Linked DNA regions of Homo sapiens: region 2 is reported to be linked to region 1. Evidence: microRNA targets listed by miRTarBase, many of them from high-throughput screens and not tested one by one. Region 1 holds a microRNA gene; the other region holds the end of a gene's coding sequence.
The links. Region 1 holds the annotated microRNA hsa-miR-4766-3p (AUAGCAAUUGCUCUUUUGGAA, at 2,458-2,478, opposite strand). A microRNA usually pairs through its seed, bases 2 to 8, with sites in the 3' UTR of a target mRNA and lowers its output. Matches are read on the target gene's strand: a 7mer-m8 pairs with bases 2 to 8, a 7mer-A1 pairs with bases 2 to 7 and ends in A, and an 8mer does both.

Region 1 (3,415 bases):
TCTTTTTTTTTTGAGACAGGGTCTCATTCTGTCGCCCAGGCTGGAGTGCAGTGGTGCAATCGTGGCTCACTGCAACCTTGGCTTCCCAGACTCAAGTGATTCTCCAGCCTCAGACTCCTGAGTAGCTGAGACTACAGGTATGAGCCAGCACAGTGCTGGCATCTGCTTCTGGTGAGGGCCTCAGGTGGCTTATGATCATGGTGGAAGGTGAAAGGGGAACAGGTATGTCACATGGTAAGAGAGGGAGTAAGAGAGAGAGGCGTGGGTACCAGGCTCTTTTAAATAACCAGCTCTCCCATGAACTAACAGTGAGAACTCACTCATCACCAAGGGGATGGCACCAAGCCATTTATGAGGGATCTGCCCCCATGACCCAAACACCTCCCACTAGGCCTCACCTCCAACACTGGGGGTCACATTTCAACATGAGATTTGGAGGGGTCAAACATCCAAACTGAGATTTGGAGGGGTCAAACATCCAAACTGTATCAGTCACATAAACGATTTTTAGCCTAAGTTCTTGGGGATTTGGGGGTTCCTCTTTTTTGTGAACAATTCTGAACTGACACCTGGATTTCTTTCTTTTTCTCTTTTTCTTTCTCTCTCTCTCTCTCTCTCTTTCTTTTTAACTTATTTATTTTTAGAGATGAGGTCTCACTACATTGCCCAGGCTGGTCTCAAACTCCTGGCCTCAAGTGTTTTGCCTGCCTCAGCCTCTCAAAGTGCTATGATTACAGGCGTGAGCCACCACGCCCAGCCTGGCACCTGGATTTCTTAAGAATGCATCATCATCTACATTTCAGGCTACTTACTAAAAAAAAAAGATGGTTTATTCATTCTGGGCTATATCTCTCCTGTAAATATCTAAAGTATACTTTTTAATTTGGTCAACACAATCCACATATGAAGTTGGGCTTACAGATAGAGTAAGAATGAAACACTGGGTAAATCTGGTCAAGACTTGGTCCCCCCAGCGTGTGCAATCTTATGGGAATAATAGATAAGAACATACATAAATACAGAAGCATATTTTCATGCCTTTTAAGCATAAAACAATGATGTTTGGGTTGGTATACCAACCAAATCACCAAATGTGACTGACTGTTTCTAAAATGTTGATTCATCCTAGCAGGGTGAAAACTAGTGGTGGGGGTAAAAAAGACAATGCTAGTCCAAAATCAGTTTCCAGAGGGGTCCCGACGTGGCTGAGTCACAGCAGCACCACTGAAATCAATGTATAGCCTCTCCTGATTTAGAACACTGCATTATAGAACAGAAAGATTATTTTAAAGCCAGACACGGTGGCTCACACCTGCAATCCCAGCACTTTAGGAGGTGGGAGAATGGCTTGAGCTCAGGAGATTGAGGCTGCAGTGAGCTGTGATCATCCCACAGCACTCCAGCCTGGGAAACACAGTGAGACTTAGTCTCAAAACAAATAAAAATTTAAAAAAATTTTTAAAAACCACCTAAGATGTTTTCTGTGGTTTGAGCTAATAAAATTCTAAAGATTAAAAGCCACTTACAATGGCTTTCATATTTAAAAATGTTATTCACCTCATCAGAGTTAATGTAAGTCTTTTCCCTGACATAACAATCAAGCTAACTCATACATACACAGACAGATAGGCAAGTTACACAAATGGCCTCATGGATGACACTCTCGAGTGTTTAGGGATAAAATATAGGTTTACGTCCCAAGTATAGTATATATTACATAAGTAACTTCAAATCTCTATGTCTCAATTTCCTCATTTGTAATTTTGAGACCGGTATTTGTCAAGGTTGCTATGAGAAGTTAGAATCAAATTATGGAAAGTAGCTGGGCATGGTGGCTCACACCTGCAATCCCAGCACTTTGGGAGGCTGAGGTGGGTGGATCACTTGAGGTCAGGAGTTCGAGACCAGCCTGGCCAACACGGTGAGACCTCATCTCTACTAAAAATACAAAAATGAGCCAGGAGTGGTGGCACACACCTGTAGTCCCAGGTACTCTGGAGGATGTGGCAGGAGAATCACTTGAACCTGGGAGGCAGAGGTTGCAGTAAGCCGAGATCGTGCCACCGCACTCCAGCCTGGGTGACAGAGCGAGACTCTGTATAAAAAAAAAATACCCTCTCTATTAAAAATACAAAAAGATTAGCCGGGTGTGGTGGCAGACACCTGTAGTCCCAGCTACTCGGAAGGCTGAGGCAGGAGAATGGCGTGAACCCAGGAGGCGGAGCTTGCAGTGAGCCGAGATCACGCCACTGCACTCCAGCCTGGGCGACAGAGCGAGACTGAGTTTCAAAAACAAAAACAAAAAATTATGGTTGGCACCTAGCATCATACCAGGCACACAGGTGGCACTCAACAATTGTTGGTTTCTACATGTCCTTTATAGCTATAGTATCTGTTAGTAGTAGAAACCACTGTTAATTTTAGGGCCCTAAAAGGAGTAATGTCTTCTCAAGTTCCTTCCAAAAGAGCAATTGCTATTTAGTAAAAAATAAACACCAACTGCTCTTTCAGAAGGAGCTTCAGAAAGGTAGAAGGGTCAACAGTATAGAATACTTACAAAGAACTGGAATCAATTAAGAATGCAAAAACAGTCAGTAGATGTATAGAGCACTCTTGACATAAGTAACTCCATCTTAGAAAAAGACTCCTATCTTTCATTTCAAAAAGCACTTTGACAACAGGGACCAGATGTTTTTCCAGATAAAGACACAACCAAGCATGCTCTTCCACTATCAGTCCTTACCAGAAGACTCTGTGACCATAAAAAGAACAGGACTTAAAAAACTCAAAATGGTCTTAACAGACACTGTCTTGCTGTCACTTGTTATAAAAGCCTGATATCTGTGTCCAAAGGCTCTGCCCACATCAAGGATTCTTTCTTACAAGACCAACACACTGCCATGATGAAACCAGGATACTTGTCTATATCACTCTCCCCGGACTGGTTAGGTAACCCTTTTTCCTCACCCTTTTCTCTTGATGTTCAATGTTACTTTGTTGCAGAATGTTTAATCTACATCATTTATGTATTAATTAGGTATACTATTATATATGATTTACAATATTGACTGACTACCTAGTGAATGAGAAGTACTAATAAAAATTGCCTCCTTGAGAACTCCATGTAACTTGTCTTTTATAACTGAAATAACACAATAAAAGTCTGACATTGTGAAAAGACACAAATGTGTGTGTACCTGGTTATCCATGACCTTAAACCATTCACAATAGTAGATTAAGCTGTTAGGAAGTCAGAGTTGACCTTTGGAAGAACAGTTCCAGTGGTCAAAGTAGGATGAGGAAAGGCAGTACGTGCAGAATATATATATATATATATATATATATATATATATATTGTTGTTGTTGTTGTTGTTTTGTTTTGTTTTGGTTTTTTTTGTTTTTGAGACGGAGTCTT
Region 2 (3,415 bases), not on the chromosome of region 1:
GAGCCGAGATGGTGCCACTGCACTCCAGCCTGGGAGACAGAGCAAGGCTCCATCTCAAAAGGAAAGAAAAATAATAATGCCTGGTTAAAGAACTCAAGAATGTTGGCTATCAAGACAAATAGTATCCACACTGCAGTTTTGTGGGAATGTCCTAATCAGGCGTCTGGGGATCAGCTGCTTATTTTTATTGGAACATGATCATGCTAATTAATATTTCATTACCCATTATAGGTTGTCTCCGGATACTTTCATCCAAGAGTTGAATAGTTGTAACACAGATTGTGTGGCCCAAAAGCTATAAAGTATTTACTCTCTGGCTTCCTGGCCTAATCTGTTGTTGAAACCTTGAGTTTTAGAAGAAGTCTTCATGTTTAAATTCTTTTTCTTGTTTTTGGGCAGGCAGAGAACATTTATAATGATGAAGACCCTGAAGGAAGCGTGGATCCAGAAGGACAAGGGTCCTAGATATGTCTTTACTTGTTGTGATTTTAGACTCCCCTTTTTTCTTCTCAACCCTGAGAGTGATTTAACACTGGTTTTGAGACAGACTTTATTCAGCTATCCCTCTATATAATAGGTACCACCGATAATGCTATTAGCCCAAACCGTGGGTGTTTTCTAAATATTAATAGGGGGGCTTGATTCAACAAAGCCACAGACTTAACGTTGAAATTTTCTTCAGGAATTTTCTAGTAACCCAGGTCTAAAGTAGCTACAGAAAGGGGAATATTATGTGTGATTATTTTTCTTCTTATGCTATATCCCCAAGTTTTTCAGACTCATTTAAGTAAAGGCTAGAGTGAGTAAGGAATAGAGCCAAATGAGGTAGGTGTCTGAGCCATGAAGTATAAATACTGAAAGATGTCACTTTTATTCAGGAAATAGGGGGAGATTCAAGTCATATAGATTCCTACTCGAAAATCTTGACACCTGACTTTCCAGGATGCACATTTTCATACGTAGACCAGTTTCCTCTTGGTTTCTTCAGTTAAGTCAAAACAACACGTTCCTCTTTCCCCATATATTCATATATTTTTGCTCGTTAGTGTATTTCTTGAGCTGTTTTCATGTTGTTTATTTCCTGTCTGTGAAATGGTGTTTTTTTTTTTGTTGTTGGTTTTTTTTTTTTTTTTTTTAACTTGGGACCACCAAGTTGTAAAGATGTATGTTTTTACCTGACAGTTATACCACAGGTAGACTGTCAAGTTGAGAAGAGTGAATCAATAACTTGTATTTGTTTTAAAAATTAAATTAATCCTTGATAAGAGTTGCTTTTTTTTTTTAGGAGTTAGTCCTTGACCACTAGTTTGATGCCATCTCCATTTTGGGTGACCTGTTTCACCAGCAGGCCTGTTACTCTCCATGACTAACTGTGTAAGTGCTTAAAATGGAATAAATTGCTTTTCTACATAACCCCATGCTGATGGGTTTTATTTAGTATAAAACATCCATCAAACACCAGTCTCTGGCTTCTAGAAGAGTCCTTCAGATGACAGTTGTTGTCCATGGTCTTTGACTATCAAGAGCAGAATTAAATGTAATAGTCCCAGAGCTGTAGAAAAGAACTTTACTCCTTCCCAGGGAAAGTGAAAGACATAAAACACTGAATCAGAGGTGGCACAGATTAGTCTTTGATAAGGTAACGTTTCTTTGAAGTCTATCTGTAGAGAACTACATGGACTTCCAAGAGTGTCAAAGGCAGTGTGGTAGAGAGAATTTAAGGCAAGATTTAAATTTGGAAAAGGTGCTTGAACCTTTTCTCAGAGGTTTTATTTCCCCAGTATGTTTTTCACTGGGGCCTTTACTTAGGTTAGAAATAATAGGCTTTGAAGGCCTCTATCACCAGATGCAATAACCAGATAAAATTCCTGTTTTTTCCCAATCGCTTAGTTTTTTGTTGTTGTTGTTTTTTAACTGAGTAGATCATTCTGACCCAGAACTACTTTCATGAGGTAAGATCTTTGGGAAAATCTGAATAGCGTTAACCATTAGATTCAAATCTCAAATGGTTTCTTTTCAAGTCTAGTTGTTTTAGAGTATAGTGAGAAATACCTTGACACAATTTTAAGAGTAAACTATATGGGTCAGCATATCCTTGAACAAAAAGTAGACTTTGTAAAAGTATTCATTTAAATTCTAACACTCGTGGCACAAAAGAATGGAAATTGTAAACCCATGTAATGGAAATTGGCTATCTTTTTGACCCCACATGTGCCCCTCAAAAATGTTTTTGGTTTGGGTCAACACAAGGCAAGATACATTCTTTAAAATACTCCCAGATGTGTCCATACATTCATCCTTCACTCAGTGCATATGTGAGGGTTGTTGCTGGAAGACAGGAGGCTCATCTTTCCTTTCCTTGGTGCATTGAGATCAGTATCAACAGCAGATGAAATAGAATCCAGCAAAGAGTTGACATGTTCTGCCTCCGGCCAACTCTAGAATCTTTTTAAGCAGGTCAGCCAGTATTTGCAACTTCCACAGGATGAATTGCTTGCCAAGTTTCTGGCACTCTTGTCTGGTTGGAAGAGTACATCCAAAGGGTACTTAGTGATCCTTTGCTAAGAAGTTTTTTGCTGTTTCCGGGTTACAGATTTGGCCATATATTTCTAAACAGCCCCTGTAAAGTTGAAAGAAAAAGTTTATAACAGTGAACTTCTGAGGTTTAGTTACTGCAGGCTTTGTTGAGAAGAGATTGTTACAGTGTGATTTATGGATGATCAGGGATGACTTTCCCCTAGCAAATATTTGGATGCCTCCTGTTTGTCAAATAGAATGAATGGTGATGGTGATGGGAGGGATAGTTAAACGTTTTCTCTGCTAGGTTAACTTCTTACAGGTATAATTACAATGCCTGAAATTCTGTAGTTTCATTTCTTTGGATTAGTCGTTGTCTTTTCCAGATTGTACACAATCTGATCAACACAAAGGTAGTTAGTAGATCATTAACCTCAATTGCAAGGTTATAATTTCTCAAACATTAAGCATATTATCAGTCATGTGGATTCAAACACAGTATAAGAAAATCCTCAAGGCTGGGTGTGATGGCTTATGCCTGTAATCCCAGCTACTTAGCAGGCTGAGGCAGGAGTATTGTTTGAACCCAGGAGGCAGAGTTGCAGTGAGCCAAGATCGTGCCACTACTCCAGCCTGGGCAAAATAGCAAGACCCGACCCCCCATCTCTACTAAAAAGAAATTTAAAAAAATAAAATCCTAGAAAATTAGAAAAAGCAACAATAGTTACTTGTGGGCCAGGCGCGGTGGTTCACGCCTGTAATCCCAGCACTTTGAGAGGCTGAGGCACGTGGATCACAAGGTCAGGAGTTCAAGACCAGCCTGGCCAAGATGGTGAAACCCCGTTTCTACTAAAAATACAAAAACTAGCTGGCCGTGGTGGCATGCTCCTGTAGTCCC

Region 2: miRTarBase lists RBBP4 as a target of hsa-miR-4766-3p. Seed matches in the 3' UTR shown: 7mer-A1 at 2,559-2,565.

Annotation. Positions count from the first base shown.
Region 1 is chr22:40,811,436-40,814,850 of GRCh38, forward strand. MIR4766 (microRNA 4766) reads right to left here and starts at 2,523; the gene lies at 2,448-2,523. All of the region lies in intron 1 of SLC25A17 (solute carrier family 25 member 17), which reads right to left.
Region 2 is chr1:32,679,241-32,682,655 of GRCh38, forward strand. RBBP4 (RB binding protein 4, chromatin remodeling factor) reads left to right here. Exons shown (of 12, transcript NM_005610.3): 12 at 400-3,415. The coding sequence ends at 465. It overlaps SYNC (syncoilin, intermediate filament protein), which reads right to left. Exons shown (of 5, transcript NM_030786.3): 5 at 666-2,620. The coding sequence ends at 2,610. Among named protein-coding and RNA genes, the nearest start is that of SYNC, 22 kb to the right of the region's middle.